Linked DNA regions of Homo sapiens. The protein of the gene in region 6 interacts with the protein of the main gene of each other region in a pairwise test. Each region holds a gene or a part of one and is shown on either strand. Other genes may lie near its edges. The genes, in order: MIS18A, NDEL1, BFSP2, PPFIA1, TXLNB, MBIP and RAB5A.

What was found.
Region 1: the proteins of MBIP (region 6) and MIS18A interact in binary tests that used the Homo sapiens proteins (3 or more experiments, as listed by UniProt).
Region 2: the proteins of MBIP (region 6) and NDEL1 interact in binary tests that used the Homo sapiens proteins (3 or more experiments, as listed by UniProt).
Region 3: the proteins of MBIP (region 6) and BFSP2 interact in binary tests that used the Homo sapiens proteins (3 or more experiments, as listed by UniProt).
Region 4: the proteins of MBIP (region 6) and PPFIA1 interact in binary tests that used the Homo sapiens proteins (3 or more experiments, as listed by UniProt).
Region 5: the proteins of MBIP (region 6) and TXLNB interact in binary tests that used the Homo sapiens proteins (3 or more experiments, as listed by UniProt).
Region 7: the proteins of MBIP (region 6) and RAB5A interact in binary tests that used the Homo sapiens proteins (3 or more experiments, as listed by UniProt).

Annotation. Positions count from the first base shown.
Region 1 is NC_000021.9:32,272,385-32,276,700, forward strand, and holds part of MIS18A (protein Mis18-alpha), read right to left. Parts: intron 2,513-4,316; coding exon 2,446-2,512; intron 1-2,445. UniProt on the Homo sapiens protein: Required for recruitment of CENPA to centromeres and normal chromosome segregation during mitosis.
Region 2 is NC_000017.11:8,438,704-8,443,019, reverse strand, and holds part of NDEL1 (nuclear distribution protein nudE-like 1), read right to left. Parts: intron 1-4,316. UniProt on the Homo sapiens protein: Required for organization of the cellular microtubule array and microtubule anchoring at the centrosome. May regulate microtubule organization at least in part by targeting the microtubule severing protein KATNA1 to the centrosome.
Region 3 is NC_000003.12:133,465,577-133,469,892, reverse strand, and holds part of BFSP2 (phakinin), read right to left. Parts: intron 3,066-4,316; coding exon 2,934-3,065; intron 1-2,933.
Region 4 is NC_000011.10:70,370,874-70,375,189, reverse strand, and holds part of PPFIA1 (liprin-alpha-1), read right to left. Parts: intron 2,998-4,316; exon of another isoform or gene 2,979-2,997; coding exon of another isoform or gene 2,976-2,978; coding exon 2,800-2,975; exon of another isoform or gene 2,714-2,799; coding exon 2,616-2,713; intron 273-2,615; coding exon 97-272; intron 1-96. UniProt on the Homo sapiens protein: May regulate the disassembly of focal adhesions. May localize receptor-like tyrosine phosphatases type 2A at specific sites on the plasma membrane, possibly regulating their interaction with the extracellular environment and their association with substrates.
Region 5 is NC_000006.12:139,281,925-139,286,240, reverse strand, and holds part of TXLNB (beta-taxilin), read left to right. Parts: intron 1-320; exon of another isoform or gene 321-359; intron 360-3,074; exon of another isoform or gene 3,075-3,137; intron 3,138-4,316. UniProt on the Homo sapiens protein: Promotes motor nerve regeneration. May be involved in intracellular vesicle traffic.
Region 6 is NC_000014.9:36,306,586-36,310,901, forward strand, and holds part of MBIP (MAP3K12-binding inhibitory protein 1), read right to left. Parts: intron 1,605-4,316; coding exon 1,507-1,604; intron 1-1,506. UniProt on the Homo sapiens protein: Inhibits the MAP3K12 activity to induce the activation of the JNK/SAPK pathway. Component of the ATAC complex, a complex with histone acetyltransferase activity on histones H3 and H4.
Region 7 is NC_000003.12:19,973,957-19,978,272, reverse strand, and holds part of RAB5A (ras-related protein Rab-5A), read right to left. Parts: intron 2,673-4,316; coding exon 2,521-2,672; intron 2,227-2,520; coding exon 2,104-2,226; intron 1-2,103. UniProt on the Homo sapiens protein: The small GTPases Rab are key regulators of intracellular membrane trafficking, from the formation of transport vesicles to their fusion with membranes.

The DNA.
Region 1 (4,316 bases), on a different chromosome or scaffold from region 6:
GCACACAACCCTAGTGAAGTCCAAGACAACTGAAGGCAGTCTAATCGATGGGTTTAGGTGATACAAACAGTATTAATAACTCTGGATCAAAGAGAGTGAATTCTCTATCAATCCTGATTAGAAAAAAGAAGAAAGTCTCGGTTTGGTGCTAGACTGTCTTTGACACTTGTCTCATAGTCGCAAATCTTTTAATAGTAACAGAACAGACCTCAGGCAGAGAACCAGCCAGGCAACAACATCTCAGCTAGAACTAATAACATTTGTTTTCACTGTAATTATCTTCAGAGTTACTTTCTAGTTATGGCAAGTATGTATTTATGATAGTAAAAACAATCCTTTTAAGACAAATTTAAATAAAAATTTTGAGTTGATTTAATTTTAAAAATTTAGTATGTAATAGCACAGTTGGTACCTGGTACACAAATAGGACAAAAATGATGGTGATATCAAAATGGCTAGAGCTAGAGCTAGAAAGTGGAGAAGAAAGAGCACTTCGAAGGCAGTAAGGAAGGGTAACAAGCATCATCCTAGCTCTTACTGCTAATTAGTCCTGTGACCTTAGCAAAGTTCTAGCCTCCCTGGGCCTAACTTTCTTCAACTACCAAATGAGAAATGATCTGAGGTGGGTTTTCCAAATTTTTATGGCCTGCATGCCGGCACCACAATTTCTGTCACATCCACAAACCATCTGTACTATTACTAATTTATCTTAAATGGAGAAACTTTTTTTCTTTTTTTTTTTTTTTCACTTTTATGGAAGAGATACATAGGGCAAAGGTTACAGAAGGGGGACACAGAGCTTCCAAGACCTTTCTAGGTACACCACCCTCCCGGCATCTCATATTCACCAATCTGGAAGTTCTCTAAAACCCATGGGTTTTTTGGAGGTTTTATAACACAGGCATGATTAATTACACCATTGCTGATAATCTCTAGCCCCTCTGCCCTCGATGGAGGTAGGAGAAGAGGTTGGGGTAGGGCCAAAACTTCCAACCCTCTAATCATGCCTTGGTCCTTCTGGCCCCCAATCCTGAAGCTACATAGAAGCCCCCCAGCCACAGTCACCTCATTAGGATTAAAAACGACATTATTATCACTCCAGAGATTCCAAGCATCTTAGAAGCTCTTCTGTCAGAACTGGGGACTAAGACCAAACATGGTAACAAAAGATACCCTTATCACCCCATCACTCAAGAAATCGAAAGGGTTTTAGGAGCGACTAAGTATTGAATGTTTCTGTCCCCTACCACATGTATAAGTTGAAATGGTAGCTCCTAATGTGATGGTATTGGGAGGAGGGGTCATCAGGAGGTATTTGGTCATAAGTGCACAGAGTAATTTTTTTTAAATTGAAATATACTTTATTTGATAGGATACTCTAGCATCACTAAAAATGAAAAGCCAGTATTTTTAATACACATTAAAATATACACATAATTAATTTTTGTTTAACTGTGTACCACCTAAAGTTATTTCATACGCAAGTGTAAGATACAGTTTACATTTGCAGCAACAATTATATAGGGCAGCGCTTCCCACTCAGTTTGCTCAGGCGTCACTATGGCACATGGGTGGCAGGTATGGCAAGATATTTGTCCCCTCTACCCTTAAAGTGGCCACACAGGGCTTCAGATTGCTGGAGCTCCTGTGTTGTTTGCTCTTGCCACAAACAGCCTTGTCTGTTTACCCCAATAGGCTGTGTGTGTGACAGCAGCATTTTATGTGTGTGCCATAACATGAGAAAGTTGGGCAGCATTAGCCTAAGGCACCCTTTAACATTGAGATTTTATAATATAGGTATTTCCTTTTCTTCTTTTTTTTTTTTTTTTTTTTTTTTTTTGAGACGGAGTCTTTCTCTGTTGCCCAGGCTGCAGTGCACTGGCGATCTTGGCTCACTGCAACCTCCACCTCCGTAGTTCTAGTGATTCTCCTGTCTCAGCCTCTTGAGTAGGTGGGATTACAGGCCCGCACCACCATGCCCGGCTAATTTGTGTATTTTTAGTGGAGACGGGGTTTTGCCATGTTGGCCAGGCTGGTCTCGAATTCCTGACCCCCCGGTGATCTGCCCACCTTGGCCTCCGAAAGTGCTGGGATTACAGGCGTGAGCCACCGTGCCCGACCTTCTTTTTCTATTTTTATTTTTGATTTTCTTCAGCACCAAGCCCAAAGATCCAAAAAGGGAATGTCAGCATATGCTTTTAGAAATCTAGAAACTCTAACTTTTCAATATCTAAAGGTGACCACAACCACTCAAGAACTAACATATTCCTTTCTAAAACAGGATATAGAAAAAGCAAAAAAAAGAACTGATATATGCGAACGACTGATTTTTTTACTATCATGAAAAGTTTTATCCCAAGTAATCTTACTACTAGTAATGACCTTTTAAAGATTTTTATTAAAGAAAATTCTCTAACATATTCATATAAATACAGTTTTACTCACCAACCATTTTCCTTTTCACGTTTGGATAGCTTCTGTTCCTTATCCACAGAAACATTACAGGAAACACCTAGAAACAGAGAAAGTAACAATAATTTATTAATGTAGTTCGTTATAACATACCTGCAGACAGAGAGTTTCTAATCCAACTTTTTAGAACTCGGAGGACAAAAAATAAGCCCAAAGTCAAACACACAAAAGAGCGGTTTAAAACTAAATGTACTGGGGTCTTCTGGGAAAAGATAGCAGAATAAGAGTTATTTCCAACCAGGCGCAGGGACTCACACCTGTCATCCCAACCCTTTGGGAGGCCAAGGTGAGAGAATGGCTTGGGGCCAGGAGTTCGAGGTCAGCCTGGACAACATAACGAGACTCCATCTCTAAAAAAAAATTTTTAAATAAAAATTTAAGAAAAATTTTAAAAGGTTATTTCCTCCCTTTCCCTGAAAACCACTAACATTAATAGAATGGCTAAAATTAGAGGGGAAAATTCATTCCACAGTAAACTTGGAACAAGTAGAACCTCAAATCACACACTGCAAAGAATTATCTGCCAGATAGTGAAATTGGGTTCCAAACCTAGGAAGATGCAAACAGCCAACACATATATCTCCAGATTTCAAACACAGGGCCCATTTCTCTAAAAGTAACTGAGAGGGTCCTCAGGATCCCAGCCACACATCTTTTACTTGAACAATGACTTGGACAGAGGTCACTGCTGGACTTCAGAGGCAGCAGCAAACATTCCCAAAGAATCCAGCTCTAGGAAACACTAAAGGACAGGGTAGAGGGTGAAGAGAAATGAAGAAGGGACATCTGACCTAAAATGGCCAAAACAGACTCTTGATTTCACGGCCTCCTACAGTCTACCTTAACTCGGTAAACTCCAACTCCATCTACCTGCTTGCTGAAATCAGAAACCAGGGTGTCATCCTTGATTCTTTGTCTCCTCATCCTGCTCCCCTGTATCTACTCCACTGATCCATCCCATCAATTCTACCTCACAAACTTCACTCCAGCCCCCAAACCACCAGCACCACCTCTTGCCTGGACTACTGCCCTGGCTCTTCACTAACCTCCCCACTTCCATACTTGTTCCTCCTTCAATGCTTTCTCCAAAGAAAATGCGGGGTCACATTACTCCCCTGCCTAAGCTAGCATAATAACGTACTCACTAGAACAGATTACTACTCTTTAGAACAGACTACAACGCCTTGCAGTTTCTGATCTCTTCCTTCCTCCCTAAATCTTATCTTTATTCTCTTTAACCAGTCTCAAGGCTTTTGCACCAGCTGCTCAGCACCTGTCAAAAGCAAAGAGCGTGACCAAGAACTGTACCTGCAGCCAAGCTAGCATTCACTTATAAATACAGGAAAATAATCCCAGCACTTTGGGAGGCCGAGGCAGGCGGATCATGAGGTCAGGAGATCGAGACCATCCTGGCTAACATGGTGAAACCCCGTCTCTACTAAAGATACAAAAAAATTAGCGGGGTGTGGTGGCGGGAGCCTGCAGTCCCAGCTACTCAGGAGGCTGAGGCAGGAGAATAGCGTGAACCCGGGAGGTGGAGCTTGCAGTGAGCTGAGACTGCACCACTGCACTCCAGCCTGGGCAACACAGTGAGACTCTGTCTCAAAAAAAAAAAAAAAAAAAAAAAAAAGGAAAATATTTTCTAGCACATAAACTTGAAATTTTCTTGGAGATGTGGACGTGGGGAGCACTAATGATTAATCAAACAATTCAGGAATGAAAAAGCTATTAAGAAGCTTTTTTATGTTAATGAGTACTGGAGTTGGGAAAACAATTTATATAAACTTTATAGGATTGGGTGCTGTAACTCACATCTGTACTCCCAGCACTTTAGGAGGCCGAAG
Region 2 (4,316 bases), on a different chromosome or scaffold from region 6:
ATCACGAGGTCAGGAGATTGAGACCATCCTGGCTAACACGGTGAAACCCCATCTCTGCTAAAAATACAAAAAATTAGCCGGGCGTGGTGGCAGGCGCCTGTAGTCCCACCTACTCGGGAGGAGAATGGTGTGAACCCGGGAGGCGGAGCTTGCAGTGAGCCAAGATTGCGCCACTGCACTCCAGCCTGGGGGACAGAGCGAGACTCCGTCTAAAAATCTAAAAAAAAAAAAAAAAAAAAAAAGTAAATAAATAAAAACCTGGAGATGCATAGAACTTGGAGTTTATCTAGCACAAGCCACTCAGGAAGGTTTAGCAAAAAAAAAAAAAAATCTTTTTAAAGGAATGAACGGTTAAATCTCTCCACATCATCAAACATAGAACACAGTGGAAGTTCAATAAATATTTGAATTGAGGCTGGACACGGTGGCTCATGCCTGTAATCCCAACACATGGGGAGGCTGAGGCAGGAGGACTGCTTGAGCCCAGAAGCAATGAGGCTGCAGTAAGCCATGATTTTGAGGCTGCAGTGAGCCATGATTGTGCCACTGCACTCCAGCCTGGGCAACACAGCAAGACCCTGTCTCTAAAATAAATAAATAAATATGTGAACTGATTTATAATCATCCTTTCAATATTCCCTCTTGACTTTCAAAGTACCACTTTATTAACATCTGAATTCCTACTTCAGGAATGGAGTAAGCAAAAAGATGTGCGGGTAGTTTACTTCCACCTTACAATGTACCACCATATATTAAATCAATATTAGAAAACCTATCATTATCAGTTAGACAAAATTATTAATCCGATACATGGGCAGCCACATTCAGTCACTGACATAGGCTCAGTACAGGCTCCACATCAAAGAATAGGGAGTTGATGGGATTTATTGGGAAGAACCTTAGAGATAACCACTGCACACTAGCTACCTCAAATCATCATTATCCGGCCCTGAAATATAAATGGACAACCAAGAGCCATCTGACAAGTAAGAAAACCCAGTAGCATGAATAAGAAAATTTTAGGACCTAGTGAACTGAGAGGAAACAGACAATTCAGGAAATGAGATTTTTTCTTATACAAGAACTCAGAAGGTACTAGACAAAGACTTAAAAAAAAAGGTCAGGAGGGCTACCTCCTACACACTTCCTGAGACAAGTACAAAAGAAGGGAGAAAACCATGACCTGGACAGCATGGGATGCAGGAAATAGGGGCTCCAACCTAGGGCTGCAATGAAAAGTCCCAGGATGAAGCCTAGTCCATCAGGCCCATAGAATGCTTCAGACGGATGACACCAAGAAAAATAAGGAATCCCATAGAACAGATAGCATAGAGCACAAGTGAGAAGCTAGATATATTTGAGGTTGTGGTGAAGACATGTTACTCTACTGTCACTAAGAAAAAGAGAAATTTAAAAGCTCAGGAAAATAAAAAAAGCAATAGAAGAAAGTCCTGATCCTTATATAAAGCATTTTGTAAGTTAATGATTTCAAGTCTAAAACTTGTAATGTATTGATTTTATCTTATTTGAAGCAACTGGGATAAGTTCCATAACTTTATAGCCATCGATGAACTTCCTGTTTTTGGTCTTAGCTTTGCCCTGAGTCCCATGTGCTGCTCTCTTGGAAGGTTCCAGGATTTGGCGAACAAAATTGTATTCTCCTTTTTTATGTCCCCTCTGGTTTTGTAGCCTTTGATGATAATACCTCTCAGCCTTGGTCTTCCCAAAGTGATTATTTCTTGCCTTTTTAGCCTATAATGATTTGGCAGCCATCTCAGTCCCTTAAATATTTTGTTATGCTTTGTATTGCCCCTAGATTACCTATCTGCCTTTCTGGGGCTGAGTGCCTAGTGCTGCTTCTGTACTGAACATTTTATTCACTGGTCAGATCATTTTTCTTTTGAGTTTTCAGTACTCTTTCTGTTACTGTGCAGCATTTGATGATATTGCTAGTAGTGTGGCCCATGAACCGGTATCATTATGGAAGTTCCTAATGACTGTTAGATACCTTCCTTGGCATCTAACATTTATTTGAAGGTGTTTGAATGTGGGGCCAATTCTTCTACGAAAAGAGTTAGGATTGTTTTGAATCTCTAAATGTTATTCAGGAGTCCACTTCAAAACATTTCCATGTGGGGGTATTTTTTGTTGGTTTTGACCCATTTATATAGTATCAGAGGACATACTAGCAGTTAATGCTTTGAAGAGCACCTAGTTAAGTAGTAATCCCTGAGGAATAGCATTGTTTACCCCTCTGGATGTATTGCGAGTATCCATTTGTCTCTGACTTCTGGTTCTTGTACAGGGACATATTCTTAATACAACACCAACTTTTCCATGAGTGTCCCCTGATAACTCAGGTTTTTAAATAGCCTTTTGCATGAAACTTTTTGAGAATCTAGTTCTAGCCCTTGCATCCTCTTTGTCCAACTACTTACATTCAGTGTCAAGTAATTCTAGCAAAATTATTTTACTTCACACACATTCTTTTTTTTTTTTTTTTTTTGAGATGGAGTCTCACTCTGTTGCCCAGGCTGGAGTGCAGTGGCACAATCCTAGTTCACTGCAACCTCTGACTCCCAGGTTCAAGCAATTCTCTTGCCTCGGCCTCCTAAGTAGCTGGGATTACAAGCACCCACCACCATACCTGGCTAATTTTTGTATTTTTAGTAGGACACGGTTTCACCATGTTGGCCAGGCTGTCTCGAACTCCTGACCTCGTGATCTGCCCTCCTCGGCCTCCCAAAGTGCTGGGATTACAGGCATGAGCCACCGCGCCTGGTCACATTCTTTATTTTCTTGCTGAATCTCATGTGAATTGAATGTTGACCACAACTTTTCTAATCAATAGGCTATTTTCATAACCCGCTTATTGGCCCCTCTAACAGTATTATAACCTATGTTGGATATCATTTACTAAAAGGACCATCATCTCTTCCAGATCAAAACAATTTAAAACATTTAACCAAGAATAAGTCATAGGAGCAGCATAGCATAGTGGTTAAGAGCCCAGACCGGGAAGCCAAACTGCCCAAGTCTGAAGTCAGACCTGGAAGTTCAGACTCGCTACTGATGCATCTACTCACTACTTGGGTGACCTTGGGCAAGTGACTTAATGACTCAGTGCCCCATTTCCTCACCTGTAAAATGGGGATAATCATTAGAATGAGCTTATGAAGTGAGCTAATATTTGTAAAGTACTTAGGACAGAACCTGGCACATAGTAAAAACCTAAATGTTCATCAAGCTATTAAAAATTGGTAGTTCGATAGCAGACCTTTCAAGTATGACCACAAAGTAAACAGGCTTCAAAATTTAAAACATGCAAATGATTCTTTAAAACTGATCATTTCAGGAATATATGCATATTCCAGTGATATCACCATTGCTGAAAAACATTTCCAAAACTTCTTTTTTGGAATAGCCTTTATGAGCCACATTAAGAACAAAGCAGGCGAACAAAGCAGGCCAGGCGCGGTGGCTCATGCCTATAATCCTAGCACTTTGGGAGGCTGAGGCAGGCGGATCACTTGAGGTTAGGAGTTCAAGACCAGCCTGGCCAACATGGTGAAACCTCGTCTATACCGAAAATATGAAAAAAAAAAAAAAAAATTAGCTGGGTATGGTGGCCGGCACCTGTAATCCCAGCTACTCAGGAGGCTGAGGCAGGAGAATCGCTCAAACCCGGGAGGAGGAGGTTGCAGTGAGCCGAGATTGGCCACTGCACTCCAGCCTGGGCAAAAGGGTGAGATTCCATCTCAAATAAAAGAAAAAAAAAAAGGCCGGGCACAGTGGCTCACACCTGTAATCCCAGCACTTTGGGAGGCCGAGGCGGGCGGATCACGAGGTCAGGAGATTGAGACTATCCTGCTAACATGGTGAAACCCCGTCTCTACTAAAAACACAAAAAACTAGCTGGGCGTGGTGGTGGGCACCTGCAGTCCCAGCTACTCGGGAGGCTGAGGCAGGAGAATGGCGTGAACCCGGGAGGCAGAACTTGCAGTGAGCCGAGAGCGCGCGACCGCACTCCACTCCAGCCTGGGTGACAGAGAGAGACTCCGTTTCAAAAAAAAAAAAAAAGAACAAAGCAAAAACTTCTTACTTTGTGGTCACACCTCATCTTTATTGCTTCCTAACTGGTATTATCCAGCTCTATTGCCCTACTTTTACCCATCAGATTTACTCTTTTTAAAAATCAGATTCTGGCCAGGCACAGTGGCTCGCGCATATTAATCCCAGCACTTGGAAGGCTGAGGTGGGAATGTCAGTTGAGCCTGGAACTTCAAGGCCAGCCTGGACAACATGCTGAAACCCCA
Region 3 (4,316 bases), on a different chromosome or scaffold from region 6:
TTCATGTGGCCTGAGGTTTTTCCATGGTGACTTAGGACCCACTGCCAACAGGGCATTCATTGGAACCCCAGCCAAAGGTTATATGTGTCTTCCATCTCACCCTTAAAGTCCGAATCCAGCTTCCCCACCTAAGTCCCTGACATTATGGCAGAAAGAGAGGATGCCTGGTTCTCCCAGAGATGCTTGAGCTGGAGTGACTATGATCAGGCTACTGTTGCAGGCAAGTACACTGGCTCAGTCAGCCACGCAGACAGCACCAGCAAACAAGCTGAGATCACAGAAGCACACTTATTCTGCAGGTCTCTGGAGATTTGAAGGGACTTTCTGGGATTGCAAAATCCTCCAGAAAGTAAAATAGTGACCTTCTGTGACTTCTGGCCTTGAATTCCATTCCTGATTTGAGTTGACTGGACACAGAGTTCAGCAGGTCTCAAGCACCATTATTTGTGCCTAGCTTCCAATGCAAATAGTGCCTTATTGGCAAAGGGGGCCGAAAGTCTCGCCAGCTTGGCTGTCTGAAGCTTATATAAGCTGCGGGGGCCTTGTGTGTGCACAGATCGCTCTGACAGAATAACAGGAATGGCTGGATGAACTTCCTGTATCTGAAAACTGTATGAGAGTTTGTTACCTATTTTGTCCCAATCTGTGCTCCTCACCTTGGCTGCAAGGCCCCGTGACCAGAACGATAATCTACTAGAACCAGCAGGGAACAGAGGCAGCCTGTTCTGGGCTATGGGCATAGACAGAATGGCACTACTCTGAAGTTTTCTGGTTGAGAGTGTAAATTATTTTTCCATTTTTTTCCCCAATGGTTAGGACCCTGGGTTTAAGTGAGGTGACCAGGTGGCTGGTGATGCCAACTTGGAGTTACTGTACTAGTAGCTATTATAGCAATTTTATATGATAATTAATAATAGATGGCATTTATTGACTGCTCACTAACTGCCAGGCACTGTGCTAAGGGCTTGACATACATTATCAAATTAATCATCTCAATGACGTTATGAGGTAAATTCTATTACGATCCTAAAGTGGCTCACACTTGCATTGGCAGCTACAACAATTATCTCCACTCCACAATCGCTTTCTCAATGTGACCTTGCCATTGTCTCATCAAGAAGTTGAATTTATTTCTCTCCCTGTTGAATCTAGGATAGTCTTGTGACTGCTTTGACCACTAGAATGTGGTATAAGTGATGTCCAGAGACTTTCGAGCCCAGGTGTTAAGAGGCCTGGTAGCTTCTGTGCTCACTCAGGTGCTATATCAGAAGTTTGACTATGTCAGGCTGTCATGATATGAGGAGGTCTAAGCTAGCTACACGGAGTGGTCACAGGGAGAGAGAAAAAGAGATGCACAATTGAGTCACCAGAGAAGCTAAATGAAGAAGCCATTTTTGGGTGTTCCAGCCCCAGCAGAGGCCACATGATACAGAGAAGAGTTATCCCTGCTGAATTCTGCCTAAATCACAGAATGAGAGAACAAGTGATTCACTGTTGTCTTAAGCTACTAAGACAGTAACTAGATATGATAGCCAAAATAGATCCTCACTTTACAAGTGAGAAAATGAAAGCTGTTCATTCACATAGCTAGTGAGTGAGGAGAGCACCCACCACGAAGTCTACCTCCTGACTCCCACAGCAGGGGTGCTCTCTCCCATCTGCCCCTCCCTCACATTTGTATCAGCTCCTCCACCGAAGCCACATTAACTCTTTGGAGGCAGGGACCATATCTCATTAGTTTTATGTCTCCAAAGCACTTGGTACAGTTCTAGGAACATAGCAAGTTCTCAAAATAATGCTAAGAGTCAGAAGAGCATGCTCATGTGCATCCACACATTGGATCCCCCTAGAAACACTGAGAAGTGGGCTGGACTGTGACTATCATACCCATTTTGCAGAAGAGGAAACTGTGGTTCAGGGATTTGCCTCTTTACCCAAGGGATAAATGGAGGAGCTGAGCCCTTCTGACTCTATTACTCTTGATTTTCCTCCCCTCAGATCCTCAGATCCTTTTCTTATACATGCTTGCACGGACCTACATCCTATCATGCGCCTCATTGACTCCAGGCCATCTCAGCTGCACAAGGATTACATGGACCAACCTTTGATTTGCACCAACGAAGCTGTAGTTAGAACAATGCAAATGACCTCCTGGAGGGGACATCTAAGAAAAGATGTTTAATACCCAAATAGAACTTCAATCCATTCCAGAGATCAGAGGGTGGATTGCTTCATTATTAATACATTTTATTATTTTAATATTTTAATAAATAATTAATAATGAAAGAGACGAGCTTGCAAATCCCAGTGAGTCTGAGAGCTTACTAGATGTCTCAGGTTGGGTTCTCCAGAAGCAGAGCCTGAGTTAGGGATCCTGGAACTCGCAAATCATTAAGGAGTACTCTCAGGAAAAGGGGGAGTGAGGAAAGCAGGACAGGGCAGAGGAAGGCACTAAGCGAGGATGTGGTCTCTGGAATCTGGCTACAGCCTGGTCCTATGGAGAGCTCTATAGCATGGAGCTAGCTCCATGTTGAAGCAAAAGGGCTGGGCTTTTAATTTTAAAGCCCCCTCTTAGTCACTGGCTGAGCCTTGGGGGGCAGGGCCTAACCTTCTGGGCCAGGTGTCCTCAGTGTGGGTAAGGGCAGGTCTCTGGAGCAGTGGGGCAGCTGAAAAGGGGCGGCTGCAGATGTTAACAGTCAACATTTACTGCAGCAGCCTGGTAAGAGATATTTCCGTGGGGCACTACAGTGTCTATTGCACCTGCTGTGATTCAGTATCTGATGATCCTTGGGAGTCAGAAGACATTTCAGGCCTCAAAACTCATATGCTGTGAGATGGGAATCCCCTGGAAACTAAGATCCATAATACTGGAATTTGACAGTAGAGAGTTAAAATTAGCACAAGGACACCAGGTCTTTCCTTGGCCCACTTACCAGGGCACGTAAGGATTCTGTCTCAGCCTGGAGGCTCTGGACTTGGCACGAAGTGTTGTGTAACTCCACCCTGAGGGCAGCTGCCAGCTTCTCCTCCTGGGTCTGGGACATGTGGGCCACCTCCGCCTGTTGCTGTGGAGAGTCAGGTCTCAGTGTGAGCGGTGATGATCAGAAATCTGAGCCCATCCTTCCTTCCCAGCCTTTCTAATCACCACTCCACTGCCTCTAACCAGAGGAAATACAGCTGTCACGTGGAAACATCTTTTTTTTTTTTTTTTTTTTGTTGAGATGAAGTCTCGCTCTGTAGCCCAGGCTGGAGTGCAGTGGTGCGATCTCAGCTCACCACAACTTCCTCCTCCTGGGTTCAAGCGATTCTCCTGCCTCGAGTAGCTGGGATTACAGGTACCCGCCACCAGGCCTGGCTAATTTTTTTTGTATTTTTAGTAGAGATGGGGTTTCACCATGTTGGTCAGGCTGGTCTTGAACTCCTGACCTCAGGTAATCCGCATGCCTTGGCCTCCCAAAGTGCTAGGATTACAGGCGTGAGCCACCACGCCTGGCTGGAAATGTCTTTTTTTTTAAACAGGTCCCTTCACCAACTTGTATACAAAAATGTATTTATTTTGAACATACGATGCCTGCAAATGAAATACAATTCAAAAGATTTCCTACAGACTATAAAGTCTCATTTTCTCCTGTGTCTTAATTATCCAGTTCTCTTGTTTCTAGTTTCTTATTCCTCTTTCCAGAAATAGTTTATATATTTATAAATAAATATGTATTGCCCCCCCCGTGCTTTGGTACTTAAAGTATCTTAGAAATTATTCTATATCAGTACATATTAGGTTGGTGCAAAGGCGATTGCAGTTTTCGCCACTACTTTCAATGGCAGAGACAGCAATTAATTTTGCACCAACCTAATAGAAATTGAGTACATTCTTTATAGCGGCTGCACAGTGTTGTCTTGTTTGGAAGGGCTGCAATGTATTTAGAAGTCTCTGCTGGTGGACACTCAGATTGTTTCTAGTCTTTCTTTCTCTATTACAAACAATGGTGCAAAGAAAAAGCTTTGATCCCTTATTTTTCATACAAGAGCATGTCTTTGAGAAAGTAGTTCTTGTAGTAGAACTGCTGATTAGAAAGGGTATATATTTTTAATTTTGGTGAATAGTGGCAAATTTCCCTTCGGAAAACTTGAAATCCATTTCAGCATTGTAAGACAGTGCCAGTTGTCCCATACCGCCCTCAAACCAGGAGTTATCCAACTTGATCTCTGTCAATCTGATAGTGCCTGTTTCCTTGTGAAAACCATGTGTCTAGTCACAACTGTGACCCAGACAAAGGGAAGCTCTGTGTTTTTAACTTCTCCCCAGAGCAAGATGG
Region 4 (4,316 bases), on a different chromosome or scaffold from region 6:
TTTTTTTTAAAGTTTCTTTCTATTCGAATAACTAGCTGTCTATAATCAGGGTGCCAACTGAACAATGAGTGCAGACACAGACAGGTTTGGCGTCACCTGTGTGTTCTGCGTCGGGATCTGTAACAGCAGTGCCAGTGCACTGAAGTCGAAGGTTTCATCTAAGGCCAGAAGTGCTCCGTGAACACCACTCTCTATAAGATTGTTTGCATATTCTTTAAGGCCAATTGACAGGATCCAGCGAATCACTCGATCATTGCTCCAAACAAGCACGTCTGCAAAAGAATAAAGACAATTATAAAAGTGGCTTCAGAAAGCCATCTTTATCACATGTACCCTGTAATGCAGGAGAAAGATTCCTACCATGGTTCCTAATCCTTCGGCTCCTGAGAAAAGTGCTGGGAGACACTGCTAAATAGACAACCATTTGCTGCACTGAGACAATGGTGTCCTGGCCCTGCTCCACTCTCAGGGAGACTCTCCCATTAGAACTCATCCTTCCAGTGAGCACGAGAGGAATGAAGTTATTATTTCTAGAGAAAAGAAGATGATGAGGATCCAGGGATCAGAAGCCAGAGGACTGCAAGAACTTGAATACCTAACATGTATAAACATGCTTCACACACAGACTGGAGAGTCTTCTGAAATACTTCATCACGGATGGAGCTGGCTCCATAATAATATGAACACTTTGCTCAATTCAACAGAAACCTCTCATTTCTAATCTCGAAGTCTTTGTCTCATTTTAAAATGAGAGAAACTTAACAATATCATCCAGCACATTAGAGACTTTGCAGAAAATCTTTTTTTTTCCTCTCTTTTTCTTGACAATGTCCTGCTCTGTCACCCAGGCTGGATACAGCCTGGTACCATCATAGCTCACTGCAGCCTCAACCTCCTGGGCTCAAGTGATTTTTCCCACCTCAGCCTCCTGAGGAGCTGGAACTACAGGCGTGTGTCACGAAGCTCAGCTAATTTTTTTGTACTGACAGGGTCTCACTATGTTCCCCAGGCTGGTCTTGAACTCATGGGCTCAGACAATACTCCTGCCTTGGCCTCCCAAAGTGCTGAGATTACAGGCATGAGCTACCATGCCCAGCCACAATATCTTATGCAAATTAACAAATTATTCAATTTGCTCTATTAGATCTAAAAATAGCCACTCTAAAAATATATGCAGATGATCACCAATCACTTCCAAAGACACTTCCAAAGATCTTTGTCTATTGGAAAAAGATGTAAAATAGATACAGAAAACAAAACAGATGGACATATTTCATTGCCAATGCCCTTTTCTGGATAAAAGTCCATACATATACACACACTGTATAAATGTCGACTTACGACTTTTCTCCTGATTCACATTAACTCAATCACAAGTAGACTTCCCTTCAACTGGGCCATCTCCCAACCATATTTTTATCCTTAGTTTCTTTCTTAGTATAAAGTGGGGATGAAAACAGCACTTAGACTGACAGGGCTAAGGTAAAGATGAAAGAAAGCAACCCCTGAGTACTTAGAACACCACCTGGCACCTACTCACTGTTAGTAAGACTGGCCTCTTCTTATCATTATTGTTATTGGTGACTTCCTTGCATTCCAGGAATTCTGGGAGTCATTACTCTGAGCTTAATGTTTACTGTCTAATTTTAAAAGCAAATTCTGACTGGGTGTGGTGGCTCACACCTGTAATCCCAACACTTTGGAAGGCCAAGGTGGGAGGATCCCCTGAGCCCAAAAGTTCGAGATCAGCCTAGGCAACATAGCGAGACCCTGTCTCTACAAAAAAAAAAAAAATTCCAGGCATGGTGGAGCACACCTGTACTCCCAGGAGCTACTAGGGAGGCTAAGGCAGGAAGAGCACTTGAGCCCAGGAGTTCAAGGCTGTAGTGAGCTGTGATCACACCACTGCACTCCAGCCTAGCCTGGGCTACAGAGCAAGACCCTGTCTCAAAATAAATTAAATAAATAAATAAACAAACAAACAAATAAATTTGAGTACGAGTGAGGGACTCCCCAACGGAGAAGAGAACCAACTCCACGTCTTCTGGATGAATGTCTCACATCCTCTAACGCCTCCCTGGCCTGTGTTTTCCAACTGAAATGCCTTTTCCTTACCCTAAGCAGCTCCTCCTCCTTCTTCAAGGACCAGCTGAAATGCAGACGCTGCCTCTCCTTCCCCTCCGGGAGCAGAACTGCACGGTGCTCTCCTGTTCTCCTGAACCCCTTGGATAAGCCCCCAGTCATATTTCTCACACTTGAATCATCAAGTGAGCTTTGCTCTGTTGTTATCTAACAGTGTGGAACAGCATTTCGGAGTGAAGGAGTACACAGGGCATGACCAAAGGAAAACTCTCAACTCACAGGAAACGACTAGCCGGAGACATTTAACCTCCAGACTGATGTGTGAGAACACAGGGAACAGTTCTCTAGCTGTGGAAGAGAATCTCAAAAGCACTCAACTTCATCCAGCCCTCCTCTGCAATGACACTAGACTAGTTAGTTTTCTCCACTTAAATTTAGCCTTTCTTGATTTTTTGAAAAATAGGAAGTCACTGAGGCTCCAAACACACCAGCAAGTAGGAGTAAACCGAATCAATTAAATGTCATGTACTAACCTTTTATTTCACTCTGACTTTCTTCTCTTTTTCTTTCCAGTTCTTTCCGGTCATAATTTAACCTTCTCAGGCACATAATTCCACACTGGAAACTGTTTCTATTTGGAAGAAAAGAGAGATGATTTAGAGATGGTAACAGTGAAAAATCTTAGCCAATTATTAAGAACTATCTCCATTAAGTTACCTGTGAAAACTGTCGACCATTTTCAGCTGCCCTCGAAGGTCTTTCTTGGTCAAGTGGTCCAGCATCCTGGCGTCTACAAGGCACTCCATGAAGTAGCTGCGGTACTGGGGGAGGCCCAGGCTGGGGAGCCACTCGTTGCCGATCCACTCGTGGTTCATGTCCCCATAGGCGAGTGTCTGCTTTTCATAAATGGAAAAGGTCAGTTACAGAGGAAGTCTCAAAAGTAGTTTATATCATTTTTAAAATGAATTTTTAATCTATTACCTATATTCTCAAAGGCTAAACTAATGATAATTTTATAATTGCAAAATAATTTGATCTCTTCTCACCTTTTAAATTTGTTAGTAAAATTTTTATACAACAGGAATAGTAACATGAAAAATATATGATTCGTTGTGATAAATTTAACTTTTAAATCAAACTACAAAAAAACTGTAACTGGCTATAAATTTCCTCTCTGAGATAGTTTTTAGTATAATAATGTGACAAAGATTGATCACGACTCATGAACAAGTTTGAAGGCTCAATTCAACACTGCTCACTAAAATTATCTCTGGTTGGTTTACATTTTAACACTTTGTTTTCCTAAAGAAAAAATCCATTTCAAAATCAGTAAAAGTCAGTTAAAATATAGTTTTAGAGAAGAGATAAAGCAACAACCAACAGGACTAAATGGGGAAACAGGCAAATTCACAATTATAGTTGAAAAAATTCAACACTTCTTTCTCATAGCAACTGATGAAAGAAGCAAAAAAAGAAAAAAATTAAGAATATAGAAAACCTAAACTAACAACCCTTAACAAACTTGACCTGACGTTTCATAGAACACACCACCCAACAACAGAATATAGAACACTCCACCCAACAATGGAATGTAGAACACGCCACCCAACAACAGAAGATAGAACACGCCACCCAACAAGAGAATACAGAACACGCCACCCAACAAGAGAACATAGAACACGCCACTCAACAACAGAATATAGAACAATCCACCAAACAACAGAATATAGAACACTCTACCCAACAACAGAATATAGAACATGCCACCCAACAACAGAATATATATGCTTTTAATGTCTGTATAGTATATTCTCAAAGACAGACAAATCTCAACATACTTAAAGAGACTGAAATCAAGGTACATTCTCTTGACTTCAACAGAAATTAGAAATCAATAATAAAAAGCTATCTAGAACCCCCTACTAAATATTTAAAAATTAGCATACTTCTAAATAATTCACAGCAAGAAATTACAAGGGGAAATTGCTCCCTCTGTCGCCCAGGCTGGAGTGCAGTAGCGCGACCTCGGATCACTGCAACCTCGCCTCCAGGGTTCAAGTCATTCTCCGGCCTCAGCCTCCCGAGTATCTGGGATTACAAGCACAAGCCACCACACCTGACTAATTTTTGTATTTTTAGTACAGACGGGGTTTCAACATGTTGGGCAGACTGGTCTCAAACTCCTGACCTCAAGTGATCCACCACCCACCTTGGCCTCCCAAACCGCTAGGATT
Region 5 (4,316 bases), on a different chromosome or scaffold from region 6:
GAAGGGGAGAGAAAAACCTTGAGGAAAATTATTAGTACTCTCTTCTGACCAAGGTAGGGAGTGGATGGATGAATATTTTACTGTTTTTTCTAATATTTTTATTTTTGTTATTGGTAATAGTGTATACACATCATCACTGTTGACCTAATAAGAACTCCAGATCCACTCTCCTACTGAGTGAGAGGCCAAAGTTCCCCTACAAATATGACAAGGCCACTGAAAGATAAGAAATAGAAAATGTAAGCCAAAGGGAACAAAATCTGACAAGAAAACACAGGCTAGGTGGTATTTTCGAAACTGATAGAGGCCTCTCGTGGGTAAAATCTCTCTCGTGGGTAAAGTCACTTTCCCCTTGGCATCTGAAATGAAAGAAATGAAAACAGATTTCCCATTATGCAGCCCACAATGACTGGTACCAGTCCGTGGCCTGAGGGTTGGAGATATCTGCTGCAGAACACCTTGGTATGGAGGAGTCAAACATTGGTCATCATGGCAGGTTTGCTTTACGATGGCATCACTCTTGCCATGCAAGGGGCTATTTTCCTACAGATATCGCTATGATGCTAAAACCCATTGCTACAATGCTTTCAAGAAGGCCTAAATAATACATTCAGGTAGCATACTTCACCCAACTAGGATAAAATTAAAAGAACTCAGATAATAACTTTTAAGTATCTTCAAGTTCCAAAGTGCAGGGTTGGAATCACTCTAGTGTTTTGGAACATGGAAAAACATAATAAAATTGCTCTGTGTTACAGAGCAATTTTTTCTTCTCTGACAAAACATCTCAAATGTGTCCCTTTGCAAAGTTAGTCATTATTCAAGTTTCCGTAAGACAATATACAAAATCTCATTCCAGAGGTAAGCAACTTCAAGTGTTCCTAACCAGAAAAGTTATTTTTCAATCACCCTAAAACTTTTACATAAGAATTGGGGTGTGTGTGTGTGTGTGTGTGTGTGTGTGTGTGTGTGTGTGTGTGTGTTGAGGGGAAAGATATGAAGAAAATAGGGATAAAGTTAAAATAACCAATTTGGGTTTCTACTCTCTTCCATGAGTTATTTCATAATCTGCATTAACCTTACAATTACCAAATAGTCAGGATGATGTTTTTAAAAATTCCAACTCCCTAATTCTGCCGCTATTTACGATACCAAATTCCAACTGACTGTGTTTGACCAAAATCAATGCTTGTGGATTAGAGTACCTAGGTGTGTCCACTCTAATTGAGTATGTGTGGGCTCATGACCTTTCTGTGCCTTCCCACTCATCATCATTAGCATATTATTTTAAACACTGTACTATTTAACAGCTACATTATGCATGAAAACAACATTTTTAGGCTAACCTCAACTTGTAACCACCATTTTAAACTTTCAGTTGTTTGCAAGTAGCTTTGGCAGCCTTCTTAGCTACTTTTCAGTTAAATGGTACTGTGCTATCGTCTAGACTAATGGTTTTCCAACTTAACTGTTTATTAGAATCAATTGCAAAATTTGTGAAAAATGCTCCTCCTGAGCCCCCACACACAGATATTTGGAGTTTGTAGGCCTGGAGTGAAGCATGATCTAGTTTCTCAGTTCTTTGAACATGCTATACGCCATCTCCCACAAGGCCTGTGCACATTCTAGTTTCTTTGCCTAGAAATTTCTACCTATCCTCACGTCCTCAATGAGTACTTATTTATTTATTTTTATTTATTTACTTTTTTTCTTTGAGACAGAGTCTCACTCTGTTGCCAGGCTGGAGTGCAGTGGCGCGATTTCGGCTCACTACAACCTCCAGCTCCCTAGTTCAAGCGATTCTCCTGCCTCAGCCTCTCGAGTAGCTGGGATTACAGGCATGTGCCACCATGCCCAGCTAATTTTTGTATTTTTAGTAGAGACGGGGTTTCATTGTGTTGGCCAGGATGGTCTCGATCTCCTGACCTCATGATCCACCCGCCTCGGCCTCCCAAAGTGCTGGGATTACAGCCGTGAGCCACCGCACCCGGCCCACAATGAGTATTTATTAATGCCTAGTCTTTATGATGCACTGTGCTAGGTGCGCAAAGATAAATAAGTCATGGCCTTTAGTCAAGGATCTCTAGGTAGAGAGGAAGAAGAAGACACATAAGCTAATTGTCATATAGTGTAAGTGCAAGAGCAGGAACAGGAAAATTTTTAGGCGAGCATGGGAGATGTTCACCCTGGGTAATTTTGACACAGATTGTGGAAGCAATGGTTCTGATTCTTCAGAAAGTGTTTTCTCTGCTCTTTTGGAGAAAATATAAACATCTGGCTGTGGTCTCCTTTTATAACCTATTTGGACCTCTTAGAGAATTTTAATAAGTCATTCAACCCATATCTGAAGATATATTCTTAGATTTTGCTTATGTACTTGATCAAAGATGTCTTTAATCATTGTATTTATTAGATGCTATTTGCTTTATTGGCACATTTGAGATGCTAAAATGTTTTGACTCTCTACTACAACATTTTCCAAAGTGTGTCTACTTTGGGATGCTTGAGATTTCACAAAGTTAAACAGTTTCTTTACTGCCAGAATTCTCTGACCTTTACTGTATACACAATGAAGATCTAAAATAGTGATGGGCATAGTTTCCATCATTTCCAAAACTTATTGACTGATTGGATCTATGAGAGACATTTTTTTTTTTTTTTTTTGAGACGGAGTTTCGCTCTCATTGCCCAGGCTGGAGTGCAATGGTGCGATCTCGGCTCACCACAACCTCCGCCCTCCGGGTTCAATCGATTCTCCTGCCTCAGCCTCCCAAGTAGCTGGGATTACAGGCATGTGCCACCACTCCCGGCTAATTTTGTATTTTTAGTAGAGACAGGATTTCTCCATGTTGGTCAGGCTGGTCTTGAACTCCCGACCTCAGGTGATCCGCCTGCGTCGGTCTCCCAAAGTGCTGGGATTACAGGCATGAACCACCACGCCTGGCCAAGGCTTTTTTTTTTTTTTTTTTACAGAACACCTTGAATATTTGGGAAATGTCTCTACAACCTAAGCTCCCAGGACTTCTTTTTCCTTTTGAGGCTGCACTTTCTCCTACAATAAACGCAGTACTTACCGGAGCAGTTGGGGGAATATTTAAAAATCTCTCTCGTGGGTAAAGTCACTTTCCCCTTGGCATCTGAAATGAAAGAAATGAAAACAGATTTCCCATTATGCGGCACCATGCCAAGTTCACATCTAAAGTATCCCCTTTGTTCTCCTACTCGCATCCTCCAGGCTCAGAGGTATCTCTCATTTATCACTTCTTTGACAACATTATGTGGGCTGGGAGAAAAACAAAGCTCATTCACAGGGCTATTCTGAGCTCAGAATCCATCTAGTCAACCTACTAATTTTATAGACAGGGAAATTGAAGCCTAGGGAGTTTCAGAATCCACCAAAAAATGTTACTCATCTAGTTGATGTGATTGTGAGATTAGTCATAAAGCAAGGGATGGACTTTGTGTCACTGACATCGCAGGACCAAAGTGGTACAGAAGCAAGCATCATATTGGTTAAGGAGCATTTATTACACCTCAGTTAATGAATTTTGTCTTTCTAGTTACAAGTGAGCTTCAGTGGTACCTTCTGAGAGGCTCCTGACTAGGACATCAGTATTCTGAAATGTCTTCAGACATCCATTTACATAGTCTTCCTTTATTTTTTGAGACAAAGTCTCACTCTGTTGCCCAGGCTGGAGTACAGTGGTGCGATCTCAGCTCACTGCAACTTCCACCTCCCAGGTTCAAGCGATTCTACTGCCTCAGTCTCCCATGTAGCTAGGATTACAGCCACGTGCCACCATGCATGGCCAATTTTTATATTTTTAGTAGAGACGGGGTTTCACTGTGTTGGCCAGACTGGTCTCGAACTTGTGACCTCAAGTGATCTGCCCACCTCACCCTCCCAAAGTGCTGGGATTGCAGACGTGAGCCACCGCGCCCGGCCCCTAGTCTTCCTTTGAACGGTCCGGTCACTCTCCCAGATAGTCTGTTTCATCTGTTTTAGCTTGATTTCTAGTTTCTCTGAGAGAGTAATAAACTGCAGCTTTGATATTTTCTGAAGGAGATGGTATTTTCTGAAGGAGACTAAATTTTCTGAAGGAGATGATAAGAAGACCAGAGAAATTCAAGGGAAAGAGGAATAAGCAGAGACAAAGCTTGACAGGTAGATTCATAGAGAAGCTAGAACCTAGACCAGACCTTGACAGGGAGGAGAGTTTACAGAAGCAGATGGAAGGGGAGAGAAAAGCCTTGAGGAAAATTATTAGTACTCTCTTCTGACCAAGGTAGGGAGTGGATGGATGAATATTTTACTG
Region 6 (4,316 bases):
TATAAATCAGAATCAGAGAGAAGAGAGGAATGATGCTGCAGCAAGTTCTCATTGGAGGCATCTGATTTTACCATACTCTATTGTAAGATCGGTTCTATCGTTAATAAGAATTATATTAACAAGGTATGAAATTGAACTAGAAAAATAACTTTCCTAGGTTATTGCCTTCTTTAATGAAGGCAGTTAGAATGGGAAAAACTTATGGTAGACTACTGTAGGAAAAGTCATTAAAAATCTTTATGAAGTCTCCTAGGAAGACATTCAAAGAATAATCCTAAAAGTGAAAAGACCTTTGTAATTATGTAGTACAACCAATACATTTTCTAAAATTAGACATCTTGAAGATCAGAGGAATAGAGTGACTTTTCCACGTTTATACAGCTACTTTGTAGTTATAAAACTAAATAAATGCCAATGAGGTTTTTACCATGTGCTAAGCAGTATGCTAAGTGTTTGATCAGCATTATCTCATTTGATCTTTGCTTCAGCCCTTAGTATTTTCATAAACCTCATTTTACATTTGAGAGTAGTAAATCACTAAAACTCTTCTCTGAAATTTTGTCATTTAGGACTTGCTGCTCCCTTTTGTTACGTGACCTGCCTTCTTCTTCTGGAAATACTTCTTTTCTGTAACTCACTCTTATACTCAATCTATAACTTTGGAAGATTGCTGTCATACCTAAAATAAATTTTAAATATATTTTCACCACTAACTTATATGATCCATGCTAAAATGGGCTATCTCACATAATTTTTCAGAAATAGGAGTTTTGGTATAATCTCACTTTGATATTATTTTAGTTCTAATATGGTACTGCTTTAAAAAAAAAACAAAACTTAGAGAAGGCAGGTATTATACATAATCACCTCAGAAGACTGAGGAAAACACAATGAGCTCAGGATCATTTTTCTGAAAAATGTTGATGTGCCAAAGATACTAACTTACCAGCACAACACTGTTTCTTAAGGTTCTTGGAAAACGGGGTAAGAATGAATGAATGCTAGAGTTAAGGAATTACAAAAACATAGAAAGTCTGGTGGTTAAGGTAAAGAATAAGAGTGGCAGCTTGAGGTGTGTGTTTGTTTAGTATTAACTGCATATGAGCTGAGAGAAGGAGCCTGTTGGGGAAGAGAGATTAAAGAGGCAGAGGGATCACTGAAAGAGCAAGGTTACAGAGGAAGCCTCTGTTTTACAAGGTAGCAAGTTCAGAGTAACAGGCCCAACCACCACCCAGGCTGACTTACTATGCCATGAAAATGGCCTAAGTTTGAGAATGTGGGTAATATATAATAGAAGTATCCCTTTTTAAAAATTCTAAATTTTAAAAATATTCAGAACCAGAGATTTTAAGGAATTAGATATATCCCCTATACAGGACTGTGTTCATTCATCTTTGAATTATTAAAATAGTGTTTTGCTTATAGATCAATGAGTGACTGTTAAACCACAAAGAATCCAGAATACAATAACATTTTCATTTATTTTTAAAAGACACTTATACTCACTACAGACTGAAAATATTCAGGAGAGATGCCTTCCAATTCAAGGATTTTATCCTCAAGTTTTTTAATTCTCTGATAAATGTCTCTTGGCACTGGACCACCTAAATACATTAAAAAAAAATCTGAGATACTATTGAATAATTCTTTCTTTTCACAATTTTTATTCTTAAAATACCATGCAAAGACACTTATGCAAAGGAATGGAAAATACTTAAGAAAATAAAAAACAAAAGTAAAACAGAATGAAGTCCTTAGGTCGTATTTTTGTATTATACACTATCGGACATATTGTACTACACTTCCTCTCTCCAAACCCCATTTATGCTTCCTATATTCTAGGAGTTTCATGTTAAATTCATTTTACAAGATATTGAATAGCTTCCATGTAGAACAATTTATATTTCTGATATGCTTTGATAGTTACATGGGAGGACAAAAATGCATAGTGACAAATGACGATAATTCAATGCAGTGGTTGCAATATGTCATATTATTTTCTTCAATTAATATTTCTCCCTACATGCCATATTTTTCCTTTGACCTAAAAGAATGTAAAAAAGGGGCTTTACCATAATTCTAAACTAACAAACTTTCTGAGGAGGGGAAGAGTAAATTATGGCCACTCAAATTTTAAATTTATGATTATATCAAGAATCCTTCTACTTCTCACCCCCTCCACACTGTGGCCTTTCTGGTCCAGACCACTTCCACCTCTCCCTGGATTACTGCAACTCCCAAACTGGTCTCCCTGTTTCTGCCATGCTTCCGTAGAGTGTATTTTCAACACAGGAGCCAGTGATCCTCTAAAAATATAAGTTAGATCACATCATTTCTCTGCTTCCAATACCTGATCATTTCACTGAGGTTAAATACCTTCCAATACCTGATCATTTCACTCAGATTAAATACCAAAGCCCTCACAATGGCCTACAAGGCCATACACAATGTGGATATTCTCCCTATGCCCACATGGTTCCAGCCACTTGATTACTTTTTTTCTGTTATTCAAAGAGGCCAAGCACCCTGTAAGCTTCAGCTGGTTCCCTCTACCGCCATAATCCCAAGTCAATTTCAAGTCTTGGCTCAAAAGTTACCTTATCAGTAACACCTTCTCTGACTATTCTGTTAAAAATACCAGTACTACCACTCCCCTACCCAGCACTCCCTTATCCTCCTTACCTTAATTTTCTCCATTCCATTACTACCACCCAACATTCAGTATATTTTCTTTCTGTATTATTTGTTTCCCCATTCTAATATAAGCTCCAAGAGGACAGAGTTTTATCTGTTTTGTTCATTAGGTAGGGCTGTGCAGCTTGTGCACTGCACAAACCTAGGAAGCATCAGTTCATAAGACTACAATGCATGGCAAAGAGCTGGTGCTTGATATTTACTGACTGAATGAATACATGATTAGCCAATCATTATGCAATTAAAGAATACGGGTAAATTTCTATATCAAAATTGTCAACTTGTTATGTAAAAATTCTAGAAATTTTGAGGATTTTAAGAAATCTTAGGACCTTGGTTGTTCTTGTTCTTAAATAAGTTAACTTGTTCATTTGACTTTGCTTTTGCTGCTCCCTTTACCTACAATGTCCTCTGCCTTACTTCTGTATCTTTCAAGAGCCAGTTCAAGCTTCACTGGGTAACGCAGGCACTGCCGAAACCTCTTCATTCGCATAAAGGCTCCTTGTGCCCCCACCATTCTTCAGTGCTCCTGAGTTTTTTGGGACAGACTCTCACTATACTGTCCAGGCTGGTCTCAAACTCCTGGACTCAAGCTCTGTTCCCCACTCAGCCTCCCAAGGAACTGGGATTATAGGCACACACCACTACACCCATCCTTTCATTACTCCTTTAAAACTCTACTTCACTATTAATCTTTCTCTCATTTGGATTATAAAGTCCTTGAAGCTGGGGACTATGATTATATCATCTCAGTATCCCTTGTGCCTAAAATAGTGCTTGGAGCATAGTAAACATTCAACAGATATTTTTCCAAAAACTTAACTGTTTCATACTATTATTAGAGACTTAACCAGTCAATCCTTTTATACAGTGGCATTTTAAACCCATCCACTTCTGAGGGAAGAGATTAATTCTTAATGCCAGTGTCTTATTACTCTCAAAGACTTACTCATTCTGTTTTCTTCTTCTACCTTCATCTGGCTAGCATAGCTTCAGATAGCTAGTATACTCCAGCTATACTGGATTCAGATATCTCCTGAACCATATTTTGTGTTTTTGTCCTTTTTTGCAAATGGTGTTTCTTCTTTTTGGAATGCTTTGCTCTGGAAAATTCCTACTAATCCTTCAAGGCCTCAAATGTCACTTCATTAGGATGCCATCATCCCTTGACCTACCCTGAGAGAGTCAAACACTAACTTTCTGTCCCTCCGTACATACATCTGCAAAGGTGAAATAAGCAACTGTCCATTCAATAAACATTTGAGCACTTGCTTTGTGCCAGGCACTGTAATAGGTACAAAGAAATGAATATGACAGACATAGTTGCACTCTCACGGACTATCTAGCAGGAGACAGACATTAAACAAACAGAACCATGATAACTGCTTTAAAGGGGAGCAGGGAATACCAGGTGCTATATAAGATTATACAAAAGGTGAATCTGCACTGGTCTAGGATTAGGAAGAAAAAGCATGGACAGAAGGGCATGAGTATAAAGATCCTAAAGCAGCACAACGAGTGGGAGATGGGAAGCCCAGAGGTGTAGCTGGAACTACAGATGTGGACAATACTATTTAAAATTACAAACCCCCTTCAATCCCAATCTCCACATTTTTAGCTGG
Region 7 (4,316 bases), on a different chromosome or scaffold from region 6:
TCTCTTGGAAATACACTACACCTGCTTTAAACTTGTTATAGAAAAGGAGACTTTCTTATTACTACAACCTGATTCCTATAATCATCTATAATCAACAACTATATAATAAGCTACAACAGAGGTAAGAGCACTGTGCAAGATAATTTTATAATGGACTATTTCCTTTTTTGTCTGAAATTCTTGCATTATCCCACCTTGATTAATCTTTTCTTACATTAAATCTGCTTTCAAATACTGAGTTCCAGAGATGGGGGAGAATTATCTTATTCTAAATAAAACTCTCTTTGATCTCAACGGCAATTTTTATTTGCACTTACTGTCTGCAATGAAGACAAAGGGAAACCAAATATCTAACACTGGCTTCAAACACTAAATGACAACCTCATATTTAATTTTCAATGACTTCTACAGCAATATTATAATCTTGAATATATCATAAATCATTCCTTTGAAAATTACATCACTGCCCTACATTTTTGTCATGCTTTTACAGTTTACATATATTATTACTTTTGATCCTCATAGCTGTTGTGAGGGGTAACCAATGATCTTTCCCATTGGACAAAGAAACAACTGAGGTTCCTCTGAACTGTTATGTGACAGGGCCACTTCTGACTGTAATTTAAGTGTTTTCTCTGCCACTCTTGTGCTGGGAAGGCAACAATTTTGGAAAGAGTAATGGATACTACATCTCACATCGTTGTCCTAAGAATTAAATAAAATTACAAATGTAACATGCCCAACTTAATACCTAATGATGCAAGAATACATGGATTCCATCTACGTCATCAAAAAAGAAAACTATTTCATCACTGATATATACAGAACAGCCACAACCGCCCTTCTAGTAGAGAAGCCAAAGAGCAAGAGAACAGGCACAGTTTTAAAAGGTCTAAGTATGCCGGGCGTGGTGGCTCACGCCTGTAATCCTAGCACTTTTGGAGGCGGAGGCGGGTGGATCACAAGGTCAGGAGATCGAGACCACCCTGGCTAACACAGTGAAACCCTGTCTCTACTGAAAACACACAAAAAATTAGCCAGGAGTGGTGGTGGGCGCCTGTAGTCCCAGCTACTTGGGAGGCTGAGGCAGCAGAATGGCGTAAGCCCAGGAGGTGGAGCTTGCAGTGAGCTTGAGATTGCGCCACTGCACTCCAGCCTGGGCAACTGAGCAAGACTCCATCTTAAAAAAAAAAAAAAAAGTCTAAATAGAGGACTTGCTTTGTTTTTAAGTGATTGCACTTGCCTATTTTGCAGCAGCAAACATTCTGAATTAGCAATCGTAATACAAAACTGGATTTTCTCAGCCTTAAAAAAATTTTTTTTAATTATTAGTTTTTAGCTTATTATTTTCCAACTCTGGATACAGATTGGCAGAACCTTTATGTTTGAATGCCCCTTTAAGAACAACCACATAAGTGTTTGCGTATGTACATATGTGGGGTACACACATGTGCTGATACATATTTGCACATGAGTAGAAGAGGGTTAGGACATAAAGTATGTGTGGGATGGAGGAATTAGGGCAGGATACAATCACTTTCTGCACTGTGAACAATGACTACTTTTACTGTTTTTCTTTTTTATTTTGAGACGGAGTTTTGCTCTTGTTGCCCAGGCTGGAGTGCAATAGTGTGATCTTGGCTCACCACAACCTCCGCCTCCTGGGTTCAAGAGATTCTCCTGCCTCAGCCTCCCAAGTAGCTGGGATTACAGGCATGCACTACCATCTCCAGCTAATTTTGTATTTTTAGTAGAGACAGGGTTTCTCCAAGTTGGTTAGGTTGGTCTTGAACTCCCAACCTCAGGTGATCCACCCACCTCGGCCTCCCAAAGTGCTGGGATTACAGGCGTGAGCCACTGAACCCGGCCTTTATTGTTTAAGTCTACAAAATCTTTGGGTCAGTTTATATATTACAATAATCTATTTAAAAATTTAGGTTTATCAGAAACATTTTATTATATGTAGTACTTTATATTTGTTTTAAAAATCAGTATTTTCTATTACTTGCATGGTTTTGACATTATAACTAATTCAAGTGTTGACATGAAAGAAAAACATACAGGAAAAAAGTGCCTTTCAAATGAGAGTTAAATTTAACATACCTGGAAATCTACTGCTCTTTTATTTGCTAGGTCGGCCTTGTTTCCCGATAAAGCTATTACAATGTTAGGACTTGCTTGCCTCTGAAGTTCTTTAACCCAATTTTTTGCTCTTGCAAAGGACTCCTGTTAAACAAAGAAACAGCCATTGAGCACAGGCTCAAAAAATGGTTACCAAGCATCTTTGTGATACAAGGCTTTAAAAGACTGTCCCAAGTGACTGTGGGAAAGAAATTATTAGGACTATTGTATTATGAGACATTTTCGTTTTTTTTTAAAACCAGATTTTCTAATTCACAAAAGCTTCAGCAGAAAGGTCATGACTATCAGAAAAAGATTTTCCAAAACATTTAATCAAAATTCTGAACACCAAAAGTGGGTACTCAAATTAGTTTTACTGTGGAATGCATCCATACTTACCTCATTTGTGATATCATATACAACTATGGCTGCTTGTGCTCCTCTGTAGTACATTGGTGCTAGGCTATGGTATCGTTCTTGACCAGCTGTATCCCATATTTCAAACTTTACTGTAGTGTCATCAAGACATACAGTTTGGGTTAGAAAAGCAGCTGAAAGAAAAGGACTACAATAAGTCAATCATTTTTCTCCAAATGTTTTCATAATATAGAAAACACCTGCTTGTATACATCTATCAAAATGTCACACTGTACCCCGTAAGTATGTACAACTATTATGTGTCAGTTAAAAGTAATAAATGAGGGGGGAAAAAAAAAGAAAACACCTAGAAACTTGACAGATTGCATACCCACAGCTGATAATAGCTTTAAATACTGGCAAACCTGTGCTTCTAAGCTATTTACATATATGCTTACATATAGGGCCTTTGTAGTGAAATCACAGATTGAAAAACTTCTGCATCTTAAAAAAGCTTGTTATAATACTAAATAAACTTAAGACTACATTTCTTTTCCTTCTTCTTTTTTTTTTTTTTTTTGATACAAGAGTCTCAGACTAGAGTGCAGGGGCGTGATCTCAGCTCACTGCAACCTCCGCCTCCCGGGTTCAAGCAATTCTCCTGCCTCAGCCTCCTGAGTAGCTGGGACTACAGGCATGCACCACCACACGTGGCTAATTTTTGTAGTTTTAGTAGAGATGGGGTTTCACCATGTTGGCCAGGCTGGTCTCGAACTCCTGATCTCAGGTGATCCGCCCACCTTGGCCTCCCAAAGTGCTGGGATGACAGGCGTAAGCCACCAAGCCCAGCGAAGACTGCATTTCAAAATTGCTCTACAATTAAAGAAATGCACTGATAGTCTTAAAAAATGAAGTTGGGGGAAACCCAGTGTGCCTAAAAGTACCATCTATACTGCTGACACCATGTCCTGTTCCATTTTACTAGTTTTTATTGGCGCACACTGGCAATTTAGTCCCAGTCAGTTACCACCAAATTAGTATTTCTTGTTATATTATCTTTTTTTTTCTTTTTCTGAGACACAGTCTTGCTCTATCTCCCAGGCTGGAGTGCCTCCCAAAAGTGCTGAGATTATAGGCGTGAGCCACCGTACCAGGCCTCTTGCTATATTATTTTTTAAAACATTGTGACACTTTAATTGTGGTAGTCATTATTACCTTAACCTAGATTTAATTTGTTCAGTTGATTCAATATTTGCTCCTACCTTTCATTCCCTGCCATAAGAATTTTTTGGATCTGTACTTTCCCTGATTCTAATTTTAACACTAGGAAAGTAGCATTATAGGCCAGGCGTGGTGGCTCATGCCTGTAATCCCAGCACTCTGGGAGGCTGAGGAAGGCAAATCACGAGGTCAGGAGATCAAGACCATCCTGGCCAACATGGTGAAACCCTGTCTCTACTAAAAATACAAAAATTAGCTCGACATGGTGGCGCTTGCCTGTGGTTCCGGTTACTCGGGAGGCTGAGGCAGGAGAGTCGTTTGAACCCATGAGGCAGAGGTTGCAGTGAGCTGAGATCGCACCACTGCACTCCATCCTGGCAACAGAGACTCTGTCTCAAAAAAAAAAAAAAAGTAGCATTATAAAATGATACAATATTGTTAAAATTAAAAGACCTACACACAGCCATTAGACCGCCCTCTGCTGCTGCTCTATCATTCACTGTAAATTGGTATGCTCCTCCCTTCCTTCTACATTTAGCTCAAGGTGTGATATTCAAGCCCTATTTCCAAATTGGTATGCACTTGAATTACCATTTTCTAAAACTGTCATATTATGC